2 linked regions of the Homo sapiens genome follow. The protein of the gene in region 1 interacts with the protein of each later gene in a pairwise test. Each region holds a gene or a part of one and is shown on either strand. Other genes may lie near its edges.

The links. Proteins that work in one complex are often made in the same cells at the same time.
Region 2: the proteins of EPSTI1 (region 1) and BCAR3 interact in a two-hybrid assay, tested with the Homo sapiens proteins (one large-scale study listed by BioGRID and IntAct).

Annotation. Positions count from the first base shown.
Region 1 is NC_000013.11:42,885,831-42,888,662, forward strand, and holds the end of EPSTI1 (epithelial-stromal interaction protein 1), read right to left. Parts: intron 2,673-2,832; coding exon 2,664-2,672; coding exon of another isoform or gene 2,420-2,663; 3' UTR 558-2,419; downstream 1-557. UniProt on the Homo sapiens protein: Plays a role in M1 macrophage polarization and is required for the proper regulation of gene expression during M1 versus M2 macrophage differentiation.
Region 2 is NC_000001.11:93,584,326-93,587,980, reverse strand, and holds part of BCAR3 (breast cancer anti-estrogen resistance protein 3), read left to right. Parts: intron 1-2,818; exon of another isoform or gene 2,819-3,009; intron 3,010-3,655. UniProt on the Homo sapiens protein: Acts as an adapter protein downstream of several growth factor receptors to promote cell proliferation, migration, and redistribution of actin fibers.

The DNA of each region.
Region 1 (2,832 bases):
GTCAGCTTAACAACTGGCTGGCCGGCTGGGTGCAGTGGCTCATGCCTGTAATCCCAGCACTTTGGGAGGCTGAGGCAGGCGGATCACCTGAGGTCAGGAGTTTGAGACCAGCCTGGCCAACGTGGCAAAACCCCGTCTCTACTAAAAATACAACAATTAGCTGGGCGTGGTGGCGGGTGGGAGACTGTAATCCCAGCTACTTGGGAGTTTGAGGCAGGAGAATCTCTTGAACCCGGGTAGCAGAGGTTGCAGTGAGCCGAGGTCATGCCACTGTACTCCAACCTGGGCAACAGAGTGAGACTCCATCTCAAAAAAAAAGAAAAACAACAAAAATAACTTGGCTGACCATCACCTGATGGTTGCCTGACATTCCTGGTAGTGGGGGCCTCTCTTGGCCTGCTCCTGTCTGCCTGACTATCTACTATAATATAACTAAGCCCAGTAGTAGGGGAAATCCTTTGTTTTGTTAAAATAGGCCACTGGGTAGAGGTTGTTGCTTTGTAGATTTTAGGATCTATCAACATAATACCAAGAAGAAACCACAAAGGAAAAAGTGGTAAATCCAAATACAAAAGTGTTTAGAAGTTTATTAAACATTTTATTACACACCTGTATTGCCTAAAGTTTCTATAACAAACATCTTACATTGGAACGATTTTCTTGTTTTTATTTTCTACAAAAAAAAAAGCGGGGGGACATTAAAATTAAGCATAGAAATGGTGGAACTTTGGGATTTCCTGTCCAGTCACCTGCGAGTCAGGTTTTATTCCAATTGATTCAACGTGGCAGATTAAATGTGAAAAGTAAAATGGTGGGCTCCTTTAGGCAGCAAGTCTTGCTTCTCTCCTGGTTACCTCTGCCTACATAGATATTTGGTTAAGCAAGATGTTTATACCCCCACACATATTCTAGATAGTTCTGGTCATGAAGTAAGTCACAATTTTCCATATCTGCACAATTTTTAAAAAATGGAACTACCCATCTGCACAAAATCTTTGGGAGTGCAGGGTAGGCCAGGCAGTGGAGGAGAAATTGACACCAACTTCCCTGAGAGCTTCCAAAGTAAGAAAGCATCCCTTTTTCCTACGTCAACTCCTGGTTGCATGCTGGAAAATGCAGCAAGTGAGGCACACCAAGCATAGACGCAAAAATCGGAACACAACTGTAAGGTAGCCAGGCTGGCAGGTGTAGGGCCGAAATGGCTGCACACCACCACACTAAAATGTCTGCTACAGCCGCACATTTACAATCAGTTTGGTGATATTTCCAACACAGGCTGGGGGATTGAGTTTCCCCCATATAAGGCAATGACAAGGATTTCAAATGGACCAAACATTTTATATTAGTGTCAACAGCACTAACACAGCTTCAGCTGGCGGAGGAGAGGGAAACCAAGAATATCCACATTATTTACTCCAGAGAAACTTCCTGACACCATCTGTTCTCTGTTACCCCCCACCCACCAATGTGGCCCTTTCCTAGTGCACCCTTGCCTAGCTCTGCGAACCCCTCAGTTATGTCTCTTGGCCCAAGAATTTCAAAACCCCATGTTTTCCTGAATAAAGAGATTCGGAAAGTTCATTTCAACAGAGTGACTGGTAACACAGAAGATCTCTTAATGCTGCAAAGTATTATTAGTTGTCCAGCTGCAAAGATGATTTGTTGTATTTACCTTTATTCTAGGATTGAATGTAATGCTTTTGCTATACAATGTGGTGGCTGGGGGACGGTGAGGCGGAGGGGACAGAGGGATTGAGCTAGATTACACAGCGTAGAAAATCAATGCTCTTACACTCTAGGGTCTGAGAACTGGTTCAGGGTCACAGAAGTGAATAAGAAAGCCAACTGAACTAGCAATAGGAAATAGGTTACACAGAGCAAAGAAAAAACAAGTTTCTGAAACATGTACAAACTACATATGATGTCTATATTTGTGTCTAGCTGATGTGTATACAAACATTGGCCTTTCTGGAGATAAACTGTCCCCCTCTGAAAATCAGGGTAACACTATTAGTAAGTCAAGACCAAAACAAGAGCCAACAGTAATGACAGTACTATATTTGATCTATACGGCCTGGAAAAGGGAATTAAAATGAGACCCTTCAAGAGAGAAAACCCCAATAACTTTTCATTAAAAATAAAAATGACCCATTTATACAGAAGGAGTTCAAAATTTATTTATAAATTTGTGTAAAAGAATATAAGACCTTTTTCTTTTGTACATATTTGTACCATAAAGAAAGTAGGGATTAAAATCTAAAAAGACCCCCAAAGCTTTCAAAACCTGATCTGAGAATTAGATAAGAATATGTCACTTAGAAAGACAAGCCTGTAGCACCCATAGCTCTGATTAACCTGAAAGCATCAAGTGACTCCCTCTTTTTCTACCCTACCAACATCACTCTAATTATACTTCCAATTAGAAAAATAATGTAGCATTTCCCTGGCAGTAGAGATTAAATATGAGTTCAGGAATCAGCTCCTCCAAACATGCATAAATGAGGACAAGGAGAAGCCAGTCACTCCTGACTGCACGGTCAAGTGTGTGGGCAGTTGAAATTAAGGTAAAAACAGTGAGGCTGAACAAAATCACATTAAGAAAAAGCATCTCATGAGGCTTTTCGAGGTCAGTTGATGAAGGCCAGATAGGAGTCAATATTTTCTCATATACCCTGGAAGAAAAAGAAAACAAAAATTACTGCAAGCAGCAAAATAAAATTCAAAGCCTTTGTAGTCAAAAATGAAGTTCCTGCAAAGAACGCTCTTATGCATCAAGCTGAAATGACCATTTTTTAAAATTAACAACTTAAATGACCATTGAAACGATTTGAT
Region 2 (3,655 bases), on another chromosome or scaffold:
AAAATCAAGGCTTCAAAACCTCACTGATCCTAAGCACCCAGCTGTCAAATGTCAGCGACGTTGGCCTGCATTTGTATAGGGCCCGTCTTTCACAGAGCTCAGAGTCTTTGTGCATATTATCTAAAAGCACTGGGAAAGGAAAGGAGGGAAAAGGCAGGCATCGGGGACATAGATCCAGTCCAGCCCCTCAGTCACACAGCAGCCCTGACCCGGCTCCCAGCTTCTAATCTTATGCACGTAAACCAACATATTTTATTCTACTCACTGGTTTTTTTTTTTGGCGGGGGGGTCCATGAGGAAATGTCATAAACTGTCATTTCTATACTGCAAAACTTAGGGAGGAAAATACAGGACTCTGTGTGGAATGTAAATGACAGCTGTGTGCTGCCTGGAGGCTCCGGCACATGCTAGTCAGCATCTGGCTGGGGACCCAGTAGCCAGGCACAAATGCCGGCTCCACATTGGGCAACTTTTCAACCATGGGCAAGCGACTTGACCTTCCTGGGCCTCACCTTCTTCATCTAGAAAGATGGAGCTTGTGAGGTGTACATGATTTAATATATGCAAAGTGCTCAGAACAGTGCAGGCACAGAGGAGGTGCTAGGGAAGTGCTCATGATAATTATTATCTGGAGGAGAGTAGAATGTCAGACTCAGACCCAGCACAGTGGCTCACAGCTGTAATCCCAGCACTTTGGGAGGCTAAGGTGGGCAGATTGCCTGAGCTTCAGAGTTCAAGACCAGCTTGGGCAACATGGCACAACCCTGTCTCTACAAAAAATATGAAAATTAATATAAGGAGCTCAAACAACTCTATAGGAAAAACTCTAATAATCTGATTTTTAAAATGGGCAAAAGATTTGCTCTTTTGAGAAATGAGTATTTCTCAAAAGAAGACATACAAATGGGCTGGGCATGGTGGCTCACGCCTGTAATCCCAACAATTTGGGAGGCCGAGGCAGGTGGATTACCTGAGTTCAGGAGTTCAAGACCAACCTGGCCAACATGGCAAAACCCCATCTCTACTAAAAATGCAAAAATTAACCAGGTGTGGTGGTGCACGCCTGTAGTCCCAGCTACTAGGGAGGCTAAGGCAGGAGAATTGCTTGAACCCAGGAGGCAGTGAGCCGAGATCATGCCACTGCAGTGGCAAACAGGCATATGAAAAGGTGTTCAACATGATTGGTCATCAGAGAAATGCAAATCAAAACTATAATGGATATCACCTTACCCCAGTTAAAAAGGCCTATATCCAAAAGACAGGTAATAACAAATGCTGGTGAGGATTGTGGGGAAAAGGGAACCCTCCTACACTGTTGAGGGGAATGTAAATTAGTACAACCACTATGGAGAACAGTTTCGAGGTTCCTCAGAAAACTAAAAATTGAGCTACTATATGATCCAGCAATCCCACTGCTGGGTATATACCCAGAAGAGTGGAAATCAGTATATCAAAGAGATACCTGCACCAATGTTTGTTGCAGCACTGTTTACAATAGCTAAGATTTGGAAGCAGCCTAAGTGTCCATCAACAGCTGAATAGATAAGGGAAATGTGTATATACACAGTGGAGTACTATTCAGCCATAAAAACAATGAGATCCTGTTATTTGCAACCACGTGGATGGAATTGGAGATCATTATGTTAAGTGAAATAAGCCAGACACAGAAAGACAAATGTTCTCACTTATTTGTGGGATCAAAAAGTCAAAACAACTGAATTCTTGGACACAGAGAGTAGAAGGATGGTTAGCAGAGCCTGGGAAGGGTAGTAGTGGGTGGGGAGTAGGGGATGGGAGGGAGGTGGGGATGGTTAATGGGTACAAAAAATTTAGAAAGAATGAATAAGACTTATTTGATAACACAATAGGGTGACTGTAGTCAAAACAATTATATATTTTAAAATAAAGAGTGTAATTGGACTGTTTGTAACTCAAAGGATAAATGCTAGAGGGCATGGATACCCCATTCTCCATGATACACTTATTTCACATTGCATGCCTGTATCAAAACATCTCATGTACCCCATAAATATATACACCTACTATGTATGCACAAAATTTTTTAAATATAAAAATTAGCTGGGCATGGTGGTGTGTGCCTGTGGTCCCAGCTACTCGAGAGGCTGAGGTGGGAGGATTGCTTGAGCCTGGGAGGTTGAAGCTGCAGTGAGCCATGACCATGCCACTTCACTCCAGCCTGGGCAACAGAGCGAGAGCCTGTCTCAAAACAAACAAAAAAACTCAGGGCAATTGCAAGGAGGGAGGCAAGACCTGATATTTAGAAATCCTCCTTTTCATAGTAATAGGATTGGACTTGAGATGCCTTACAGTGTTAGAAGGGGTACCTTTTCTTCTGTTTCCTTTGGGAAGGATAGGCTGCTGAATGGTCGAAGCAGGGAATTAATGTCATGCACAGAGTGGGAGTGTATTCGGCAGGATAACAGAACCACTGCTGCAGGGAAGGCCTCCTAGTTGGCCCTGAATGATCCTGGTTTAAAAACTTTTTAAGATAAGAAATGAAAAAAAGACTAAGTCTCTTAAGTCAACAAGTCAGGCCTAATAGAGCCACTTTTCTGTTTGCCCTTTGGAATGCAGATCCTCCTAGAACTTGTCACCACTTTGTACACGCAGCACGCCCAGAAATGTTTAAGTGGGAGGAGGGGAAAAGATGGCTCATGGCCTGCTGCCCTGCCCCAGTGTCCTTCAGTGGCTCCCTTATGCAGCTCTGGCCAGGTGCCACCTGCCCTGACGTCGGGCCTGCTAGTTGGCTGGCTGGTGGCCTGCCCTGGGCGAAGGTGTGTGCTCACAGGCAGGTTGCATTCCACACCCTGCCGTTCTGGCCCCTGGAGTCCAGCCGCAGTGGTCACTGCTTAAATATCACTTCTCGGGAGATATTTCCTTTTGTAATTTGCCCTCGGTCTTGTCTTATCTTCGAAAGGTTGCTGGAATTTCTCTGTTCCTTGGAGTTTGGGGGTTTTTTGATTTGTTTTTTCTTTGGTGCTTGTAAAGGTAGGAAAGAACTTCGTGATTTCTGTAACATAACAATGTTTTATGCTTATGGGAAGGCCAATTAAAGTTCATAACAACTTGGCTGGTGCAGTGCCTCTGTCTCTAGCTAGGGAGATTCTGGTGCTTGGTGCTGGAGAAATTCCCAGTCTGAATTGGAAAGGGACAGAAGGAATAACAGCGAGTGTGTTGAAAGTTACCTTCCACCTTTTCCTTGTGTGGTTACACAGTGTGCCTCCCAACTGCTGCTTGGTGACCGTGCCGGTGCCTTTTCCCAGCTCAGCAGGAGGAGGCTGTGTGGGGGTCCCCCGAGAGCAGCCAGGAGGTTGGGGATGGCAGCCTCCCCAGGCAGTCCTGCAGGTTATTTGGGGGATGCTGAGATTTGCACCAAAATGGAAGTTTCCCCACAGCTTCCTTCCTAACTGCAACACTATGGAGCATGTGGAAAATGCATGTTAGTTAGGCAAGCCATTCCCTCTGGGCCTGTAAGTAATTTTAGGCTCTGTTAAAAGTACACATTCCAGTTCATCAGATTTTCCCGGGAGTATCGTAAAACTTTTACCCTACTCTGTTCAACAGGATGGAACAGCCCAGAGGAGGCATCCTAGGACTCAGCTGCTGCATTGGTCATGGGGACAGGGGGATGGAG